2 linked regions of the Homo sapiens genome follow. The protein of the gene in region 1 purifies or fractionates together with the protein of each later gene. This does not show direct contact. Each region holds a gene or a part of one and is shown on either strand. Other genes may lie near its edges.

Evidence for each region.
Region 2: the proteins of PSAT1 (region 1) and MPRIP purify together in Homo sapiens (affinity purification with mass spectrometry; 2 studies listed by BioGRID and IntAct, with this or other methods). This does not show direct contact.

What each region holds. Positions count from the first base shown.
Region 1 is NC_000009.12:78,312,164-78,322,905, reverse strand, and holds part of PSAT1 (phosphoserine aminotransferase), read right to left. Parts: intron 5,231-10,742; coding exon 5,102-5,230; intron 1-5,101. UniProt on the Homo sapiens protein: Involved in L-serine biosynthesis via the phosphorylated pathway, a three-step pathway converting the glycolytic intermediate 3-phospho-D-glycerate into L-serine.
Region 2 is NC_000017.11:17,161,854-17,172,595, forward strand, and holds part of MPRIP (myosin phosphatase Rho-interacting protein), read left to right. Parts: intron 1-2,255; coding exon 2,256-6,062; intron 6,063-9,864; coding exon 9,865-10,012; intron 10,013-10,742. UniProt on the Homo sapiens protein: Targets myosin phosphatase to the actin cytoskeleton. Required for the regulation of the actin cytoskeleton by RhoA and ROCK1.

The sequences.
Region 1 (10,742 bases):
ACCAAAAGTGCATGCCCTTGCTGGCACCAGATGTTATCAATCCTTTTAATGTATGCAGATGAAAGGCAAAACATATCTCATGGGTTTAATCTGCATTTCCTAAGGAACTAATGAAGGTGGCATCTTTCCATTTGTCTATGAGGCAGCTTGCATTTCTTCTGAGTTGTTTCCTCATACTGTTAGCAACCACCACACCCCCACTTTTATTTCCTTATCCTTTTTCATTCATCTGTGGGTTCTTGCCTAAATTAAGGATAGTAACCTTTATGTTTAATATACTACAAAATCTTTCTCATTCTGTCATTTTTGATTCTGTTTATGATGTCTTAAGCCATATAAAATTTTAAAATTTTCATGTAATTAAATACGTCATTCTTTTACTTTATAGCTTGAGTTGTATGTTTAAGGCCTTCTGCACTCCTGGACATAGACAGCAGCAGAGGTTCTGGAATGAGCCTTCCACCCCCATGTTCGTAGCCTGGCTGGTCCCACTTTCCAGCTGCATCCTTGTCCTATCTGTGCTTCTGCTGCATAGGCTCAATGTCTACTTCACAGGGTTGTGATGACAACAAAATGCATTCACATGTGTAAGGTGCCTAGGACTCTGCCTGCTTCATTTTATTTTAGGGTCTTCGCTAGACCCATCACGTGCCTCCTTCTCTTTCCTAAGGCCTGGTACCCACATAAGGTGATAAAGGTGACCTCAGATCCAGACATGGAATCTGTCACTTGGACATCCTTATATAATAAAATTAATATATATTATATACTTATATAATTAATTATATTACATAAGCTTATATAAGCACTGTGTGTCAGGAATATCATAATTGCTTTATATAACAATAACCACAAATAATGATATTAAGAGCTAACATGCAAGGAATGCTTCCTGTGTGCCAACCACTGTTTCTAGCACTTTATACAAATTAACCAGCACAAGAGTCCTCAATCCTTAATGTAAAAATGCTCTCAATCCTTATATTATATATTCTTGATTCAGAAGCATTTCCTTTTAATTCTCTTGACAATTTTAAGAAGTATGTATCATTACCTCCATTGTACAGATGAGAAAACTGTGGCTTAGAGCAGTTAGGTCATTTGCACGAGGTCACACGCACCACCGTGGCAAAATGGGGCTTCTAAGCCCAAGGTGCTAAACGGCCCACGTGGGCTCAACATGGGGTCAGTCAGCACAGTGTGGGTGACTGGGCTATGGAATCAACTTGGAGGCTTCGATGGTTGTCTTATCTAGTCCCAGAATTCCCTGCCAAGGTCACTGGCAGGGCTGGTGAAACCCCCAGCAAACAACCTGGAACTATGTTAAGGAGCTGGTTTACGAGTCAGGGGGCATGGAAGTGGGGAGGGGGTGCATCTTCTCAGAGACAAAAATGAGGAGCAAAGGTGGTGGTAAATTGCAAATTCTAATTCTAGGTATTCCTCTTTAAAAGTGGCCACCTCCCATGGGGCCATGTTGCTCAACTATTTCCATAGTTCCAAAGAAAAGAAGAATTTCCTGAAAATCTAAGTGAGTTCAGGCACAGCCTGGGAGTCTCCAGCTATAAACAGAGGAGAGACAGAGTACAGCCTCCTCTCTACTCCAGTAACAAGGTCCCACAGAACACCAAGTGCCTGGGATGACGCTTTCCAGGCAGGCAACTGAGGGGGTGGTGGGAGTTCCTAGAAAGAGGTTTATTCTTAAAAGGACTGGAAGTCCTGGGTCAAGGCAGTTCAGAAATGAGTGAAGAGCTCTGGGTGTGAAGGATGACCAGATTCCCCAGGAGATGACCTGCCCAGGAGATGACCTGCCTGCCACATTAGTTTGGCAGGCTGCCTTCTGGGAGAGGCCCAGGTTTAGTGCTTGGAGTTAAAGGACCTAGGCGTGGCGGGGGGGGATTCAGGAGAGTCCCAGAATTCCTTCTATGCTTTCTTATTTTGTTCCTGATGCCCTTAATTTTTTTCCCAGTGGTATCACCGTTCTTTCTGTCCTCTAACATCATGTCTACACATCTCCTGAGAAATGTATAGAGCTAAAAGCTAATAGAAAAATTGGTCTCCCGTCCACTATACCCACCAAGTGCTTTTACTCACATTCAGGTTCTCAGCACTTTTTAGGGAGCCAGGGAAGATGATTTATTCTTCTCGGTCTTCCAGGAGCCTAGAACAAGGCTAGTGTACAGAGCAGGTCCTCAGGAGCCATTTTATGGATGGATGGACGGTTGGATGGATGGACAGATGGATAGATGGATGGGTGGGTGGGTGGATGGGTGGGTGGGAGAATGGATGAGTGGATGGATGGATGGATGGACAAGTGGGTAGATAGATGGGCGGATAGGTGGAAGGGTGAATGGACAGATGAGTGGGTGGGCGGGTGGATGAATGAGTGGATGGATGGATGGATGGATAGATAGATGGGTAGATAGGTGGAAGGGTGAATGAATAGATGGGTGGGTGATGGATGGATAGATGGATGGGTGGGTGTGTAGGTAGATGGATAGATAGGTGGGTGTGTGGATGGGTGGGTGAATGGATGGATGGGTGGGCAGATGGATGGATGGATGGATGGATAGATGGATGGATGGAAGATTGATGGATGAGTGGATGGGTAGGTGAGTGGATGGATGAATGGATGGATGGATGAATGGGTGGACAGATGGATGTCTGGATGAGTGGATGGGTGAATGAATGGGCGGGTGGATAGATGGGTGGATGGGTGAATGGGTAGATGGGTGAATAGGTGGGTGGAAGGATGGGTGGGTAATGGATGGATAGATGGATGAGTGAGTGGGTAGATGGATGGATAGGTAGGCAGGTGGTAGATGAATAGATGGATGGGTGGGTCAATGGTGGATGGATGAGTGGATGAGTGGATGAATGTATAGATGAATGGGTAGACAGATGGATGAATGAATGAATGAGTGAATGAGTGGATGGATAGATGGGTAGGTGGGTGGATGGGTGGGTGAGTAGATGAATGAATGAATAAATAGGTGGACTAAACACGCCCTCACACACTTCCACGGACCTTCTTCCCAATCCCAGCATAAACCATGCCCTTCAAGCAGCCCATGTTCTGCTCCCCAAACACACTGTACACTCTTCCCTCAGTGCCTTTGCGGGGATGATTCTAACCTTTCTAAAAGTACTTCTGCCCTCTTCTCTGCCTAATTCCACTCATGACCAGGGCTCATAATAAGCTCATGCAAAAGCCCTCTCTTCACTCCAACCAAAGAGTATCCCCCTTTTCCAGGCTCATGCCACATTCTTTAGCCCTTGGCTATGAAATCTTTGGATACCTACTGCTGATCGTGCACTTTAAATGGCTTCAGTGAGCACAGGCAGGGTATCCTGGCCTCCAAACTCACACATCAAGGTCTAGTGTGGAAGCTTCCCCAGCACTGAGCCCCCAGCCTGCACTTGCTTCTCTGTTGCACAGAACCAGAGAACAGGCAGTAATGCAGAGTGTGTACCCCTTCCCTGAGATGGTGCCTGGGAAAGGAGCCCAAAGGCCAAGGCATCCCGCCAAGCCTAACTCCCCCTGGGCTTGCAGCTGGAGGAGGGCCACTGCATGTCAAGAGCTCACAGAAACAGGCAACAAGCATTGCAAGAACAAAGGTGACAGCAGCATGCCATCCAAAAAGTACACCAGCACTGCCCGCCCATGGGTGGTTATGGAGATGTGTTAGTTAAGTCTTGGCTAAAAAGTACAATCCTAAGTTAGGACAGAGGCATCGTTTTGTCGGTCCCATGTGGCCACTGAATTATCTGAGAGAGGGCAAATTTCCAACTTACCATCAAGCAGATATTTTTGTTACTATAGACTGAACCCCAAAGAGCAATGGCCACTAAGAAGGGGGTTCTCAGTTTGGTGAGTTTAAGCATTTATGTATATGTGTAGGCGCACATACATGTACACAGCAGGAAGTCTGGTCTTTGTATACCTGTAACCACCTTAAGGGAAAGGGAAAAGCAAATGAAGATACCACCTGTTACACTTCTCTGCATCCAAGGCACCGCACTAGGTGCTTCCCATCTGGCATTTTGGTGAAGGGCCTATTGTTGTGGATTGAATGGTGACCCTGAAAAGGTATGCGCATGTCCTAACCCCCAGAATCTGTGAATATGACCTATTTGGAAAAAAAGGACTTTGCAGATGTCATTATGTGAAGGATCTCGAGATGAGATGATCCTGGATTATCTGGACAGGCCCTAAATCCAAAGACCTCTCTTTTTAAGAGACAGAAGGGAAGACACGGCAGAAAGAAGGCCATGTGAAGACAGATGTGGAGGCTGGAGTGATGCAGCCACAAATCAAGGACCACCCTGAGCCACTAGAATCTAAAGGAGGCAAGGCATGGCTCTCTGGAGGGACCAAAACCCTGCTGACATTTTGATTTTGAACTTCTGGCCCCAGAAGAGTGAGAATCAGTTTTCTGATGTTTTGAGCCACTAAGTCTGTAGTACTTTGTTACACCAGCCCCAGGAAACTAATACAAGACCCAGACATTTTCTGCAGAATTCCCAGGTGCAGGGGCAGTGGTTAAGACATACTCATTAATCATTTGTTCATGGGAATATTTAAACTGGAGTCAGCCCATGCCAAAGCCAATTCCATTCACAGACTCTGGGATAACAGCATCTGTCTTATAATAAGGAAAGGAGTGAATTTTCTTAAAAAGGGAAATAACGCAGAAGAGGAGGACAGGAGTATTTGTCCCAAAGATCGCTAACAGGAGTCCTTAAATTGACACATTTCAGAAAGTACATTTGTTTTTTTCCCAGAAGATATACAAAGGAGGGAGTAGACGGGACCTACCCCAGGGAGTGAACTGAGATTCTTCCCCAGGGCGATGTCTTTGGTGTGAGAAACATCACCACCCACTGGGACACAGGTCCCAAAGCCTGAGAGCCCCAGGGTGAGGTACAGGAGGGAAGAACTCACCACCCACTCCCCTGCTCATGGGGCCCAGGACCACACACACTCACCAGTATTTTAATGTCTCAGAGAAAGGTGAATATGTCCACTTTTCAAAGGTACACAGTATATACACAGTTTTAAATTCACAAGAGGCAAAATAGGAGATAAAATCCATTGACTTACACGTAGAATCCTTGAGAATTATCAATAATCTCATAAATTGTTTGAGATTTGATGGAGCTAAGCTTCTCCATGGCCGCGGCACCTCCATTGTTTTTAATCCACTCCAGAACCAAGCCCATGACGTAGATGCTAAAATGAAGATTTTTAAAAAATCCGTTTAGCTCATCTTTGCAAAAGTAGAACTATATTCAAGCAAACTGCTGTTGAAGGTGCATTAAAACAGACTTAAACACATTATTTGAAATAGACAAGATAGTCAAATGCAGTGGCTCACGCCCGTAATCCCAACACTTTGGAAGGCCGAGGCCGAAGGATCGCTTGAAGCCAGGAGTTGGAAAGCAGCCTAGGCAACATAGCAAGACCCGTCTCCATAAAAATTGAAAAATTAGTTGGGTGTGATAGCATGTGCCTATAGTCCCAGCTACTTGGGAGGCAGAGCAGGGAGGAATGCTTGAGCCCAGGGGTTCGAGGCTGCAGTGAGCTATGATCACACCAATGCACTCTAGCCTGGGTGACAGAGCGAGATCCTGTCTCCAAAAAAAATAAAGAAAGAAAATACACAAGACAAAAGCAGGGCCCATGTGAACAAGAGCATGTCATCAAGCAAGGACTAGGGTCAACCCAATTCTAGATCCCTGAGGGCCATTCAGAAAAAGGTTTAATCAGATTTTTCACTAAACATCATATCAGTCCCTCCTTGTCCAGCTTAAGCCCTAATGTAAACTCTTCTTGAGAGCCAGAACACACTTCCTTATCTCCACCAGAAGGCATCAGCAGACCCCAATCCCACCCCTACCCAGAGCGAGCTCTTCACTTCCTGAACTCCCAGAGCGCCTTGCCCATATTACCTGCATAGTTTTTTTCCACTTGCTCTTTTAAGTTTCTGTGTGCCTGTTGTTTGGCCTCTGTGGTCTTGGAAGGCTAGAAGCCCACGCTGTTCATCTTTTCTACCCACATCCTTAGCACAGTGCCTTCCAGCCAGCAGAGAGCACTGTGGCCGAGGGGTTAAAAGGACGGGCTCCCCCTCCCAGTCCTGACTCCCATTGTAGGGCAGCCACTCACTAACAGACTACCCAGAATTAGTCACCTCGGTTTTCCCATCTGGAACCGGGAGATCCACCTACCTGTGGTGGACACCTGGCATTTTATCCACCCTGCTCTTCCCAACTCCACCCTCCAGCCAGTATGCAGGTCCAGCAAGGCCCCTTGGCTCCCTGGTCTCAGAGTTCGGCATAGGACCTAACTGGGCCAATCAGGGCCTTCCCTGAGATTTTCTGAATTGGGTGTGGGGAGAAAGAGTGGGGAGAGCAGAAAAAGCGGCAGAATATTAGTGCAACTGTGAGACAGGAGATGAGAGCCCTAGGGGATCATGTTTCTAGGAAACATCTGAAGAAGGCCCATCTGAAAATGAAGCCAACATTCCCGCTGAGAGAAGCCAGGATCAGAAGTGGAGAGCAGATGGAGGAGGATTTGTGTCCCTGGTTCCAGGAAGTCCAGCTGCACCTGGGCCCTTCCCGCAGCTCAGGACCATCCCTTTCTGAACCAAGTATTTCAACTTCTTCCTGCCAGACCAACGCTTAGCACAGGGCCTGGCACGTGGCAGGTGGGCCACACAAATGGCAGTCAGTAGTCCCTTCAAACTTAAGCTGAAAATATGAAACACTGAGGAGCGGTGCATGGTTTTCCCCAGTCTGAAAACCCCTCTCCTTAAGAAGGTGCTAAAGGCTCCACGTGTACTCAGTAAAAGCTCAGGGCACAGGAGGAGAGGTCGCCCAGGGAAGACACCATCTCCCTTGAGCTGGGAGTCTGGAGGTCAGCTGCCAACTATGCCCTCTCCAGAGGTGTGAATCAAAGATCCCCTATGGGAATTGTGCAAAAATTTACTGGGAGTCAATGCTCAGCTAAGATCTAGGGTGGGGATACCCAGCTGCTTCCTCCTTTATTAACAGGAGGGGACATTATGGGGTCTGGAAAATGCTCTAACAGCCAGCAGCTTGTCACAGGGAAGCCCCCTATACCAACTGGCTCATTCACTGTCTCAAGTGGGACCCAAGGCCTGGGTGCAGTGGCTCATGCCAGCTCATGTTGGCAAAAGCCAACACCGGGCTGCCCAGAGGGGCCTTAGGCAGGGAGCAGCCAGCAGCCACAAACATCCAACAACCTCTCCTGAAGCTTCCCCAGCCTACCTCCCCAGACAGCACTGGGAAGAAAGAGCAAGAGTGGCTGCTGGCAGAAAGGGAAGGCAGGGAGGAAGAGGAAACAGCCCCTGAGAATATCCACAGCCTCAGCGGTAGCTCTCTGGCTAACGTCCAAGAAGTCAGAGGGACAAAAGAGACAGAAGAGAGAAAGTAAGAGAAGGGAATGAGTACTTCCTGAAGTCTACTGTGGCCTCAGCCTATCTTTATTGATCACAATAATCCTCGGGTTAGAGCCACCGTCATCCCATTTTCCAGATGAGGAAACTGAGGCTCAGAGAGGTTAACTTTGCCTCAAGTCATCTGGCAAGCAGCTTAAAGCCAGGACTCCAACTCTAGCCTGTCTGACTCCAAGAATGCAAGCTCTTCCCACAAGTATGCAGGCCCTCTGCTTTGCCAGGGGCTGCAGGGCTCCAGCCACTAGCTCCCCTGCGAGTGGGACTGCAGAGCTATCACCACACACCAGTGACAGTGGCCAAGTCCAGCACACAGCACACATGCACGTGGGTGTGCATTCCAGACACGAGGCTGCCCAGCCCTCTGTTCATCAGATGCTCTGCAATTCCCACTTCACTTCCAACTGCTCCTCTCCCACACCTGCAGCCTGTTCACCCCCCACCTCCACACAGAACCACAGAAACACACCCTGCCATGTGATTGAATCCAAGCAGAGCCCAGGTCACCAACAATACTTCCAGGTGACCAAGCTTCCCTTTTGCCTGAAGCTCTGTGTTAGCCCAGGGTTTCAAAGCTGACATGGGCCCTTGCTGCACTGTGGATTTGGTTTGTCTAAATCCAAAGTGCAGCAAGGCCCATGTCAGGTCCACCGTCCTAGCCAGACCTCAGTACCGACGCCTGAACCCCTAGCTGACTGCTGTGCTCACACTCGCCGCCCATGATCTCTGGCTTTCTTAATGGGATCTGAGGAGGCAAGGCCAGCAGAAAGCTCACCCACTTTTAGGGGCTGCCTGGAGCCAGCACCCATAACTTGGCTCTATGAAGCCTAAACAAGAGGCAGACAACTCAGAAGCAAGCAAGCTGTCCTGAAGACTGAAGACATCCCTGGGATAGGAGGTCCTGCCTCCCCTCCCACCCAGCCCTCTGCAGAGCACTGATGTCTAGCCCCTGTGACTCTACTTAACACAAGATAGGAGGTCCTGCCTCCCCTCCCACCCAGCCCTCTGCAGAGCACTGATGTCTAGCCCCTGTGGCTCTACTTAACACAGGATAAGAGGTCCTGCCTCCCCTCCCACCCAGCCCTCTGCAGAGCACTGATGTCTAGCCCCTGTGACTCTACTTAACACAGGATAGGAGGTCCTGCCTCCCCTCCCACCCAGCCCTCTGCAGAGCACTGATGTCTAGCCCCTGTGGCTCTACTTAACACAGGACCCTCGTGGCTTCCAGTTCTTTATTAACTCATGTTTCAACTCCCATACCGTCTAAAATCTTGAAAACACAAGGGCTCTAAAACGCTTACACAGCTTATAGAGTGGTCTCAATTCTTCCCACTACCAGTGTGACATTTTTAAGACTTATGCCTTCATTTCTAAAATGCCACCTGCAAACACACAGGATAGGGTTCCTAACTCTGCCTATTAAATGATTAAATAAATCGAGGTATGTCCATTCTACAGGACACCATATATATTTTAAAACAAAAAAGGGCCAGGTGTGGTGGCTCATGCCTGTAATCCCAACACTTTGGACGGCCAGTGTGGGAGGACAGCTTGAGGCCAGGAGTTTGAGACCAGCCTGGACAACATATTGAGACCCTGTCGCCATAAATTTTTTTTTTAATGTAGCCAGGCATGGTGGCACTTGCCTGTAGTCCTAGCTACTTAGGAGGCTGAGGTGGGAGGATCACTTGAGCCTACGAGTTTGCGGTTTCTGAGAGCTATCATCACACTGCTGCACTCCAGCCTGCACAACAGAGCAAGACCCTGTCTCTAACAAAAATAAAATTTAAAAGTAAAAAATAAAAATAGGCATTTGAGCTGACATAGCAGAATGCCCATGGTATATTGTGGAGTGGAAAAATAGAATTCACAGAACAATTTGTATGGTAAAGTTCAAGTTCCATTTGCATGATTAAATATATGACTCTGTATATTTGCATATGCCCAGTTAAGAGTCTGTTAGGATACAAAGCAAGCAGTGAACAGTGGCTACCCTGGTGACTCTGCCCACCTGCAAGTCTTTGCTAAGAGTATGTTACTGTTTGTTTCTTTGTTTCTTTGTTTGTTTTTTGAGGCAGAGTTTTGCTGTCACCCCGGCTGGAGTGCAGTGGCACGATCTCAGCTCACTGCAACTTCCGCCTCCCAGGTTCAAGTGATCTCCCGCCTCAGCTTCCAGAGTAGCTGGGATTACAGGTGCACGCCACTACGCCCGGGTAATTTTTGTATTTTTAGTAGAGACAGGGTTTCACCATGTTGGCCAGGCTGGTCTCGAACTCCTGACCTCAGGTGATCTGCCCGCCTTGGCCTCCTGAAGTGCTGGGATTACAGGCGTGAGCCACCACACCCAGCCTAAGAGTATATCACTGTTATAAATTTTTTAAAGCAATACAAAATAGTCCCTGTGCACCAGGGCTTAGAAAAGGACACCAGAAAGTCCCCTGGAAAACTCTCCCTGGCTGTTCTAAGACTCCAGCTCTGCAGATGAGGTTCTGAAGTTGATGTTATGGCACAGTTTTCTCAGGAATCGGTGAATGTAGCCACTGAGTTGAGCACTTTTCCCAGAGGAAAGCTCCCAAAACTGGCTCCACTACACACCCCTCTGTGAATTCCAGGATTCCAGGCATCCCCATCCCACTGGGAGAAGGTAGTCTGGGACCAGTGAAGCCTTCCAAACAGGCCCACAAACTTAATTTGCATGCTCCCATTCTTTTATTTATTTATTATTATTATTATTTTTGAGATGGAGTTTTGCTCTTATTGCCCAGGCTGGAGTGCAATGGCACAATCTTGGCTCACTGCAACTTCTGCCCCCTGGATTCAAGTGATTCTCCTGCTTCAGCCTCCCGAGTAGCTTGGATTACAGGCATGTGCCACCATGCCTGGCTAATTTTTGTATTTTTAGTAGAGACGGGGTTTGTCCATGTTGGTCAGGGTGGTCTCGAACTCCCGACCTCAGGTGATCCACCTGCCTCGACCTCCCAAAGTGCTGGGATTACAGACATGAGCCACTGCGCCTGGCCTGTTCTCATTCTTTTAACAGGTGGCCTAAGATTAATGGTCTATTTGTTTTGTATTTTTATTAGTTACTTCACCTCATACTGCAGCTAAAACAAACGTATGCTTGTGTATTCAGTTAGTCATGGTAAGTAAAAAATATTTTGTGCAGTCAGAAGGGAAGTTTAGGGATCTTTTTCTCTATGCACTAATTGGGGTTAGTGTGTTCTACTGAAGGGTTAAAGAGAACAGCAGTGTGTTCTTTATTCCACTCTA
Region 2 (10,742 bases), on another chromosome or scaffold:
AGAGCTGGGGCTCTTACCACTACTAGCCCAACCCCGGGATACCTCCACTGAGATCCTGTACCACAGAGCCCTGATATAGGGGTGTCACAAGGCTGGAGCTAGCCTGGCCCAAGGGCGTGCCTATGTCTGCTGACTTTCCTGCAGCGTGCCAGGCCTTGTGCCAGGTATTGGGCATAAAACAGATATACTCTTGTCCCCATTGAGTGGTAGAGGAGATTGTGATAGGAAGATTGATATATAAATACTGCAGGAGAAGTGAAGTGGGGTACCAGAACAGGGAGCCTAAGTTCTCGGCAAAGGCTGAGGGTATAACATTAGAATCAAGGTCCTAGGTTCAAGACTTGGCCCTGCTACTGACCCCCAAAGCAAGTGCATGTGTCCCCTCCTCTACAGCGGCAGTCTGCTGCCTGTGTAGACTTAGACCCAGTGATCCCTGAGGGCCCTTCCGGCTCTTAGACCCCGAGTCTCTGTCACGTATTGTCTACATTTGCAGACCGCAGTGCGCTGACCTTGGTCTGAGTTGTCCCAGGCAGCAGATGGAACAGGGGCACTCAGCTGGCCTCTGACCATAGTCTGCCTCTTTGCAGACTCTCTGCTGTTTCTTCTCCTGTGTGCTCCCTGGGCCTTCTCTTTCTTTCTGCCCCACATGCCCTAGACTCTCCTCTCCAGCCTCTTCTGCCATAGTCATTGCCATGCCCTGTTCAGACCTGGTGAACAGGGCCTCCCTGTGGGCCTCCCTGCCAAGGTCATTTGCGCTTGCCCTCCAGGTTTGAGGAGCATCTTTTTAATTCTTGATTGGGCCTCATCCTATAAGAACTGGCTTCAAATCAGGTAGTAAAGATAAAAGTTCAGCATCCCAAATTCGAAAATCTGAAATGCTCCAAAATCCAAAACTGAACGCTGACATTATGCTGAAAGGAAATGCTCACTGGAGCATTTCAGATTTTGGATTTTTGGATTGGGGATGCTCACCCAGTAAGTAGAATGCAAATATTTTAAAATCCGAAACAGTTCTTGTCCCAAGTATTTTGGATAAGGGATACTCAACTTGTACTAAGCAGCGGACTTTGCACATTGCTAACCTAGGAACCTACCTCTGTCTAACTTGCATAATTGCATGAGCCTACACTGAAGCCCCTGTTGGTCAGCACTGGGCAAAGCTGGTCTTTAATACCTTTTCCCTAAGTCTAATAACCTGTGACTTCTCACCACCCTTTATGCTTTGGAAATGCTTTTAATCACGACTCAGAATGAGCAGGGGGTCTGTGGGGTTAAGGGTCAGGAGCCAGCTACTGGGGTGGGTGCTATACTAACTGCTGGGAGGAGCTTGCATGATTTGGACATTGAGTGTGAAGTGTAACTTGAACTTAACATAACTGAGTGTCACATCTGTGGCTTCCCCGGCCAGCAGACCGAGAGGGAGCCATAGGCAGGCCAGATTCTTAGGCTGGGCTCGGCTCACTCTTGTTTGTGTTGTTTTTCCCTATATTAATGAGTTCTGTCTCTGCATGCCTTTCAGTGTGGGGAGTTTTGTTTCATTTACGTTGTGTTTTGTTTTTGCATGCTTCACTTTTTCTTATTTTGAACTCCACAAAGGTTTGTTTGTTTTGTTGATTATTGTATCTTACTCCATGGTTCCCGTTCCCCCCTCGTTTTGACTTCTTACAGGTAGAGATTAGTTCTTCCTGTTACTCTAGAGGACTGACTACACTTTCCACAGGAAAATGTTTGGATGTCACCTTGCTGACATCTCCCGAGTGTTACCTTCCTTCCTTCTCCTCCTGTCTTAGAAGGAAGTGGCATCATTTACCTACACCTTGTGTCCTGCGCTTGTTTAGGATTTGTTGTCAAGACTGCGTACTTTTTGTTTTGTGAAACAAACAGCTGCAGGTGCTGTGCTCCTCCCGCCTGTCCCTCTTCCTGGCGCTCTCTTGTCCTTTAGTCTTTGTTTTGCTTCTTAGTGTGTTCCATTATTCAGTTTTGTTTGGTTTATTTCTCCTAGAAGCTGTTTGGTTAAAGCTGTTTTCTGATGTTATTGTCCATGTTTTCTGTTTACCTGGAAGCAGCTACTTACTAAAAAAAAAAAAAAAGAAAATTTGTTGGATTTTTTTAATGGGAAAAAAAAATAAAGTTGTACAAAGGATAAAAGCCAAAGCCATCAAGGAGCTTTCTGTGGTTGTTCCTGGCCAGAGGTGTGACACTCAGAACTGGGAGGCCCGAGTGTTACTAACCAGTATTTAATCGGTTTTTTTAAGACTGAAGTGGCCGCCTCCCCATCGGGTGCCTGGCAGAGGCTCCATAGAGTCAACCAAGACCTTCAAAGTGAGCTTGAAGCCCAGTGCCAGCGCCAGGAGCTGATTACACACCAGATTCAGACCCTGAAGCGTAGCTATGGGGAGGCCAAGGACACGATCCGGCACCACGAGGCTGAGATCCGGAGCCTTCAGGCACGGCTCAGCAATGCGGCCGCTGAGCTAGCCATCAAGGAGCAGGCGCTGGCCAAGCTCAAGGGCGACCTGAAGCGGGAGCAGGGCCGGGTCCGCGAGCAGCTGGAGGAGCGGCAACACAGCGAGGCGGCGCTGAGCAGCCAGCTGAGGGCTAGCGAGCAGAAGCTCAAGAGTGCTGAGGCCCTGCTGCTGGAGAAGACGCAGGAGCTACGGGGCCTGGAGACACAGCAGGCGCTGCAGCGGGACCGGCAGAAGGAGGTCCAGAGGCTGCAGGAGCGCATTGCCGACCTCAGCCAGCAACTGGGCGCCAGTGAGCAGGCGCAGCGGCTGATGGAGGAGAAGCTGCAGAGAAACTATGAGCTGCTGCTGGAGAGCTGTGAGAAGGAGAAGCAGGCATTGCTGCAGAACCTAAAGGAAGTGGAAGACAAGGCCAGCGCCTATGAGGACCAGCTGCAGGGTCAGGCACAGCAGGTGGAGACCCTGCAGAAGGAGAAGCTGAGCGCCACTTTCGAGGGCAGTGAGCAGGTGCACCAGCTGGAGGAGCAGCTGGAGGCACGAGAGGCCAGCGTGCGCAGGCTCGCAGAGCACGTGCAGAGCCTCTGTGACGAGCGGGACCTCCTCAGACAGCGGTTCCAGGAGCTGACAGAGCGCGTGGCCACGTCCGACGAGGATGTGGCTGAGCTCCGGGAAAAGCTGAGGAGAAGAGAGGCTGACAACCAGAGCCTGGAGCACTCCTACCAGAGGGTCTCCAGCCAGCTGCAGAGCATGCACACTCTGCTGAGAGAGAAGGAGGAAGAGCTGGAGCGCATTAAGGAAGCACATGAGAAGGTTCTGGAGAAGAAGGAGCAGGACCTCAATGAGGCTTTGGTTAAAATGGTTGCCTTGGGGAGCAGCTTAGAGGAAACAGAAATTAAGCTCCAGGCAAAAGAAGAGATTTTAAGGAAATTTGCAAGTGAATCTCCAAAGGACATGGAAGAGCCACGGAGTACCCCTGAAGAGACAGAAAGGGATGGCACTTTGCTCCCAGGCCAACCAGTCCAAGCCACTAGGGCACCTCTAGGCCTCCCACACACAAGGCTCGAGGATGAGGACGAGGACCTGGGGGCTCCTCCGGGGGAAGAGTACGGTGATGGCAGCCCCAGTAGGGAAGACAGCATGGTGCCCCCAAAGTCAGTGGAAGTGCTTGACAGGGAGGGCCATCAGCAGGGCACAGCCAAACTCGACCAAGGGGCACCTGGTGTTAAAAGGCAAAGAATCCGGTTCTCCACAATCCAGTGCCAAAGATACATTCACCCCGAAGGGTCTGAGAAGACCTGGACCAGCAGCACATCTTCCGACACCAGCCAGGACCGGTCACCCTCGGAAGAAAGCATGTCCTCAGAGCCTGCACCCAGTGTACTGCCTGCAACTGGCGACTCTGACACGTACCTCTCCATCATCCACTCCCTGGAGACCAAGCTCTACGTCACAGAGGAAAAGCTCAAAGACGTGACCGTGAGGCTGGAGAGCCAGCAGGGTCAGAGCCGTGAGGCACTGCTCGCACTGCACCACCAGTGGGCGGGCACCGAGGCCCAGCTGCGTGAGCAGCTCCGCGCCAGCCTGCTCCAGGTTGGCGCACTGGCCTCCCAGCTGGAGCAGGAGAGGCAGGAGAGGGCCAGGAGGGTTGAAGGGCATGTTGGAGAGCTTGGGGACTTCCAGGTCAAGAATAGTCAGGCCCTGATGTGCCTGGAAAATTGCCGAGAACAACTGAGATCTCTGCCTAGGGCCAGCCAGGAGGATGAGCAGGACGCACGCGCAGCCTCCCTGGCCAGTGTGGAGAGTGCACTCGTCAGCGCCATCCAAGCCCTGCAGCACTGGCCGGCCCCAGCCCATGGCGGGGCCCGTGCACAGCTGGAGACAGGTGGCACCGAGGAGAATGGGAAGCCTGCCTCCCTGCAGCAGTGCTCCCAGTCTGAGTTGACAGAGCAGGAGCAGGTGAGGCTTCTTTCTGACCAGATTGCTCTGGAGGCCTCGCTGATCAGCCAGATAGCAGATTCCCTGAAGAACACAACATCAGATGTCTCCCGAATGCTCCATGAGATTTCTTGGTCAGGACAGCCACCGATGGAATCTGCTGGGGCCCCCGTAGACACCTGGGCCAGGAAGGTCCTAGTGGATGGTGAGTTCTGGAGCCAGGTTGAGTCTCTGAGGAAGCACTTGGGGACACTGGGAGGAGAGGCAGTCGGTGCCTCAGGAGACGGGCAGCAAAGCATCCCACAGGGCCTGGCCCCCATCCTGGCCAATGCCACATGGGTCAGGGCAGAGCTCAGCTTTGCCACACAGTCAGTGAGGGAGTCGTTCCACCGCAGGCTACAGAGCATCCAGGAGACCCTGCGGGGCACCCAGACGGCCCTGCGGCAGCACAAATGCCTGCTGAGGGAAATCCTGGGAGCCTACCAAACCCCAGACTTTGAAAGAGTGATGCAGCAGGTCTTGGAAGCCCTCAGGCTTCCAGCGGGCCATGAAGATGGTGTTCAGCTGTCCTGGGACCTGAGCCCCTTAGGAGAAGTCCTGGGCCGAGACTCAGACAGCTCTCAGGAGCCCTTCGATGTGTCTGACCAGAGCCCTGGGGCCTTTGTTGCTATTCAGGAGGAGCTTGCCCAGCAGCTGAAGGAGAAGGCCAGCCTCTTAGAGGAGATAGCGGCTGCCTTACCATCTCTGCCACCTGTGGAATCGCTGAGAGATTGCCAGAAGCTTCTCCAGGTGTCCCAGAGTCTCTCGTATAACACTTGTTTGGGAGGCCTCGGTCAGTATTCTTCATTGTTGGTTCAGGATGCCATTATTCAGGCCCAGGTTTGCTATGCGTCCTGCAGAATCCGGCTAGAATATGAGAAGGAGCTCCAGCTCTGCAAGGAGTCCTGGCAAACCCGGGAGCCCTCCTGCTCAGAGCAGGCACAGGCAGCCCGGGCCCTGAGGGAGGAGTATGAGGAGCTTCTCCGCAAGCAGAAGAGCGAGTACCTGGATGTGATCGCCATTGTTGAAAGGGAGAATGCAGAGCTCAAGGCCAAGGCCGCCCAGCTAGACCATCAGCAGCAGTGTCTGGAGGATGCAGAGAGCAAGCACAGCATGAGCATGTTCACCCTGCGGGGCAGGTATGAGGAGGAGATTCGGTGTGTGGTGGAGCAGCTGACCAGGACCGAGAGCACACTGCAGGCTGAGCGCAGCCGGGTCCTGAGCCAGCTGGATGCCTCGGTCAGAGACAGGCAGGACATGGAGAGGCATCATGGTGAGCAGATACAGACCCTGGAGGACAGGTTCCAGCTCAAGGTCCGGGAGCTGCAGACGATCCACGAGGAGGAGCTGAGGACCCTGCAGGAGCACTACTCGCAGAGCCTGAGGTGCCTTCAGGACACCCTCTGCCTCCACCAGGGGCCACACCCCAAGGCCCTGCCAGCCCCTGCCCCCAACTGGCAGGCCACCCAGGGAGAGGCTGACTCCATGACGGGGCTGAGGGAGCGCATCCAGGAGCTGGAGGCCCAGATGGATGTCATGCGGGAGGAGCTGGGACACAAGGACCTGGAGGGCGACGCGGCCACACTGCGTGAGAAGTACCAGAGGGACTTGGAGAGCCTTAAGGTCTTAACGCCCCATTCAATTTGCAGAGCAGATCTTCCTTGATAATGGGGTGGGTGTGGGGACGTCTGGCTCAGCTACCGTGCAGGCAGAATTGAGGGGATATGCTGCTGTCCCTCTACTTGCTAGCCATGGTGTGGTCTCAGCAGGGCCTGGGCCGCAGGCTTAGCCTCTTGTTCGGCATCCCCCAGTGTCCTCCACCAGGAGGAGAACTAGCAGGAGGGCCGCCAGGGTCCCTGGTGGGAGAGGAGCACGTAGTCTTCCCAGCACTTCCCTGCCTGCCTAATGCGGCCTCTCCGTGTTCCTGAGAGCAGCCCCCAATCCCCTTGCCAGCCTTGCCTCCTTCCTGCCCCTGCCCCGGGAACCCCGTCTGGCCCAGTCCCAGCCCAAATCTGAGGCAGCTGCCTGAGGACAGCCTTGTACTCACAGCAACACCCCGGAGAGCCAGGGCCCAGTTGGAGGGCAGTCTCCTCCTGATTGCCCTAGGAGAGCACAGTCGGGCGGAGGGTCCCTCTCTGGAACTGGCATTTGATGTGTGCTCTGGTGAGAAGAACTTTCCCACGGAGCACAGCCTCCAGCCACTCCTGTCCCCTTCCCCAGGACCTTTACAAGTAGATTTTCCCCAGAACTGTCCTGCATCCCCGCCCCTGAGGTCCTGGAGCACAAAGGCGAAATGCCAGGCCCTGGAGGTGGTGGTGGGCTGAGTGGAGGCCCAGCTGTCTGGCCCCACCCTTTGTAGCTGCAGGCCACACCCACCATGTGTGGCTGTCAAGCATCATCCCTTAGACTCAAAAGTTTACCATGATACCTGTGCCCTTATGTTCCTTCCACTCAGGAAGCTGCCCCAGTAAATGACTAGGATGACTAGGCCCCTCAAAAGCCATGTTCAGGTGGTGCCTTCCACGCTCATGTGGCAGAGCCAGGCGCGCACACAGCCAGCACCATTGTGCTGCAAGCTCCTGACTCCCAGGTGGCTGCCACTGCTCCTGCCTACACATCCTCACAGCCACTGTCTAGCAGGACACCTGTTTTTCCCAGCCCGTTACTCCTGTAGCTCTGAATGGAAACAGCAGCTCACATGTCACCTCTGTGTGACGGACTCGGCCCCACCCAGACACACAGGTGTGGTTGTCAGCGAGCACCTCAGGAGAACTGAGAAGCTCTTTTTCACCATTCTTTCCCCAAATCAGTCAAAACCTTTTAAAAACCATTATGAGTTGTGAGAAGGTTTCAACAGCTATGTTTTCAAAGTGTGTGTATATGATGGCACTGTGGTCAGTTCACCAAGAGCAGCACTGAGATGGGTGGATCCAGGTGCACCTTGAAAAGTTAATTGCACAAACCTTTGCTTTGACCCCAAATACGCTTGCTAGTGCCCTTCCCTGCAGCTTCCCAGACAATCAGCAGGGTCCATGGGGGCAGGGCCTGGGCACAGCAATGCCCTGCTTCCTGTCTGCATCCATAAGAGGCCCCTCCACACCGAGGCTGCTTTAGGTTAGCCAACCAGGTGCAGGGGAGGCCCCATGCAGGTGCCATTATACCAACAGTGAGCAAGAAATCAGAAAAAAGAGGACTGCCTTATGTTGAGAACTGACCAGAGATTGTGCTGGGCCAGTGTCACTAGGAGGGAGAAACAGATGATGCAGGTCGGGATGAGGCCCCTCCCAGGGGCTTGGACACTGTCCACTCCCTGCTGCCTTAGCTGCCGTTGCATAGTGTCCCCTCCTGTGCCTGGGAGCTTCTAGCCCAGGTGTGGTGTTCTCACCCACCCCTGCAGACTTACAGAACTTGTAAATAGACAGCACCTTGAGATTTCATCACTTTATGCAGATTTCCACTTGGGTCGTTGGGGACAGGGTCTTGGCCTAACAGCCGTCCTCTGACATCCACAGGCTCCCACCACACCACGATTGCAGTCATCGGGGAACTTCTTTTGGTGTCAGGAATGATTGGCTTAAATTAACATTTGTTTGCAAGATCAATTATTTTTTAGCATATAGTTTCTCTCCAAAGAAGCAACTAGGTCTTTAAAGATGTCCCAGTGCTTCTGTTAGATTTTTGACTCTTACCTGCATAATATTCCAAAGCACTCAGATCAAAATAAGACTTTTCCCAGCAAGTAGACTCAAAGAAAAAAAAAAAAGACTTAAAAGATCTATTAATACTAGTTGTGCTCGTTTTAGCAGCATATATACTAAAATTGGAATGATACAGAGAAGATTAGTATGGCCCCTTTACAAGGATGACACACAAATTCATGAAGTATTCCATATATATATATATTTTTTTTTTTTTTAATTAAAAAAGACCTATTAGTTAAATGTGTTAACTGAGAAGCCACATACAAACAGAAGCGAGTGGGAGGAAGAAAGAAGAGCTCAACCTTGGGGCCTGAGGACCAGGAGCTCCAGAGCTCCGAGCTCCTGCAGCCGTCCTGAGGTGTGAGGGTGGCAGAAAGAGACAGATGCTTCCAGGTGGAGCCGCTGGGAGAGGGGATGGGACGCCTAGTTAATAGTGGCAATAGCTGAGACATTCACCCAGAGCAGCACATAGGTTGCAGTCAAGTCCAGACTGACCACGAGTTTGGAAATACTGCCTGAGGCTCTCAGAGTTGGCCATCACCAAAAGTGGGCCCAGAGAAAAATGCCCAGGCATGCTGATAGGATTTCTTGGTATCCTTTCTTGAATCCACATGCAAGAAGATTAACCAAGTGGTGCAGGCTATCAGCCCAGAGTGGGGAAACCCCCACACTTGAATTTGGAATGGAATGTGGCCACGTTCTTCCAGTTTTTAAAACTCAGCGAGAGGCCCAGTCCCTTCTCTGAAGCAGACCACTTGAAGGATTTAGACAGAAAGTGTGTGCCTCCGTGCTCAAAATAGCTGCACACCCACCCTTCCCGGCAGCTGTGCAGCACGCTCACCTGCTTTGTTAGTGAGCACAGCTCTGATAACCAGGCCTGGGCTTCCTGGTGTGGCTTGCTCCCATCCTGGGGCATGCCTATGTCGCTCTAGGGAGGCACAGGAGAGTTTGGAAAGCAGGTCTCCTGTCATGTACTTGTTAGAGTTAGCAGAGGTGCTAAGTCATTGGTGCCCTTCTTTAAGAAAAGAGTAAGAAAGAAGACACAGGCTAGAAGGAAGGGGAGCCTGTAGCCTGATCTTACTCCCTCAGTCAACACCTGAGCATTAAGTGACCAGCTGGAGGTTGTCAGCTGGCTAGTGGCAGAGTCCCAACCCCCAGCTCCCAGAAGTGGACTCTATGTACCCCCAACCCACTGTGGGTTGAGAGGCTCCCAGCCCGGTGCCCGCCAGGCCACTCCCTATATGTGGAATGGCCTTGGTTCCCTCCAGCAGACAAGTCCCTCATCCCTGTTTTACGGGCCTTTCACCGTGTCCCTCCAGACCAGACACAGCCAGCCTCTGCCCACGTGCTCTCTCTTCCTTCCTGTGGGTCCCACCTGGCAGCAACGCAGGAAGGTCCAGGGTTGGCTGGTTTCCATTTCATAGCAGCCTGTCCCCACCTACCATACCAACTTCTCCCAGGAAGAAATGGGGCACAGTACAGTCACAGAAATAAGAGGTAGAGTTGACTGGTAACACCCTTTTCTGAATGCTCTGATGGCATTGCTGAGAATCCCCAGACAGCCCCAGGGATCCTGTTCAGGGCGCCCATGGTGGAGCAAGCTCAGTGAATGCCCAGTCACAGCTGGGCCTGGACAGGGTGGGATTCCTGGCTCCTTTATTTAAAAGGGCCCCCAACTTAGAGGTAAAGAAAGAAGTCGATGAAGTCCCTTTTGCATTTTGCAGGCCACGTGCGAGCGAGGGTTTGCAGCAATGGAAGAAACGCACCAGAAGAAGATTGAAGATCTCCAGAGGCAGCACCAGCGGGAGCTAGAGAAACTTCGAGAAGAGAAAGACCGCCTCCTAGCCGAGGAGACAGCGGCCACCATCTCAGGTTGGGGGGTGGGGTAACCCTGAGGGCAGGGTGGGTGGCCAGCTTTTTTTGAGCTAGACACACAACTCAGAGGAATGGCAGCCTTTAAATTGCCTTTTGGCTGAGATGTAAACTTCATTGTTGAAGGGTTCTTTGACTATTCACTCTGAGGCAAAGGCCAATTTTAGGTCCCTTTTGAGAGCTTGTAAACTGAGAGCGCACACTTCGACCCCTGACAGCCCCGTCGTGGCCGGCTGCACACAAGGAGCTGTCCCAACCTGTGACTTTCCAGTTCCAACAAGTAGACTGACCAGTGTCAGTCCAGCCAGTGACTTTCCCCCTGACAGACACCTGTCAACGTGGGACCACCTCTGGCCAGAATGCCCCTGCCGTCAGCGTGAAGATATGTAGCTTCACCGGCAGGTGGCCCTAAACAAGCACGTCCCCTCCGCCTTGTGCTGCCTTCCCTTTATGTAATCGCCACCTCAGTGGTTTGTTAATTTAGTTCCAAGGAAGAAAATACACCAGCACAAAAGCTTGCTTGTTTTATAAACTCATGTTGGAATTTAACAATGACATTTATTTAATCAGTTTGGTTTTCTTCTAACACCAAAAAAAAAGCCAAACGTGCATTCCTTCCAGGGGGAGTTCATGAAGAATTCTCCCAGCCTGCACCCACCTCAGAGAATTGGTTCATGAGGGGCCAGCCTGTCATGCAAAATCCAACTGCTGATTGACTAAGCAAGCATCA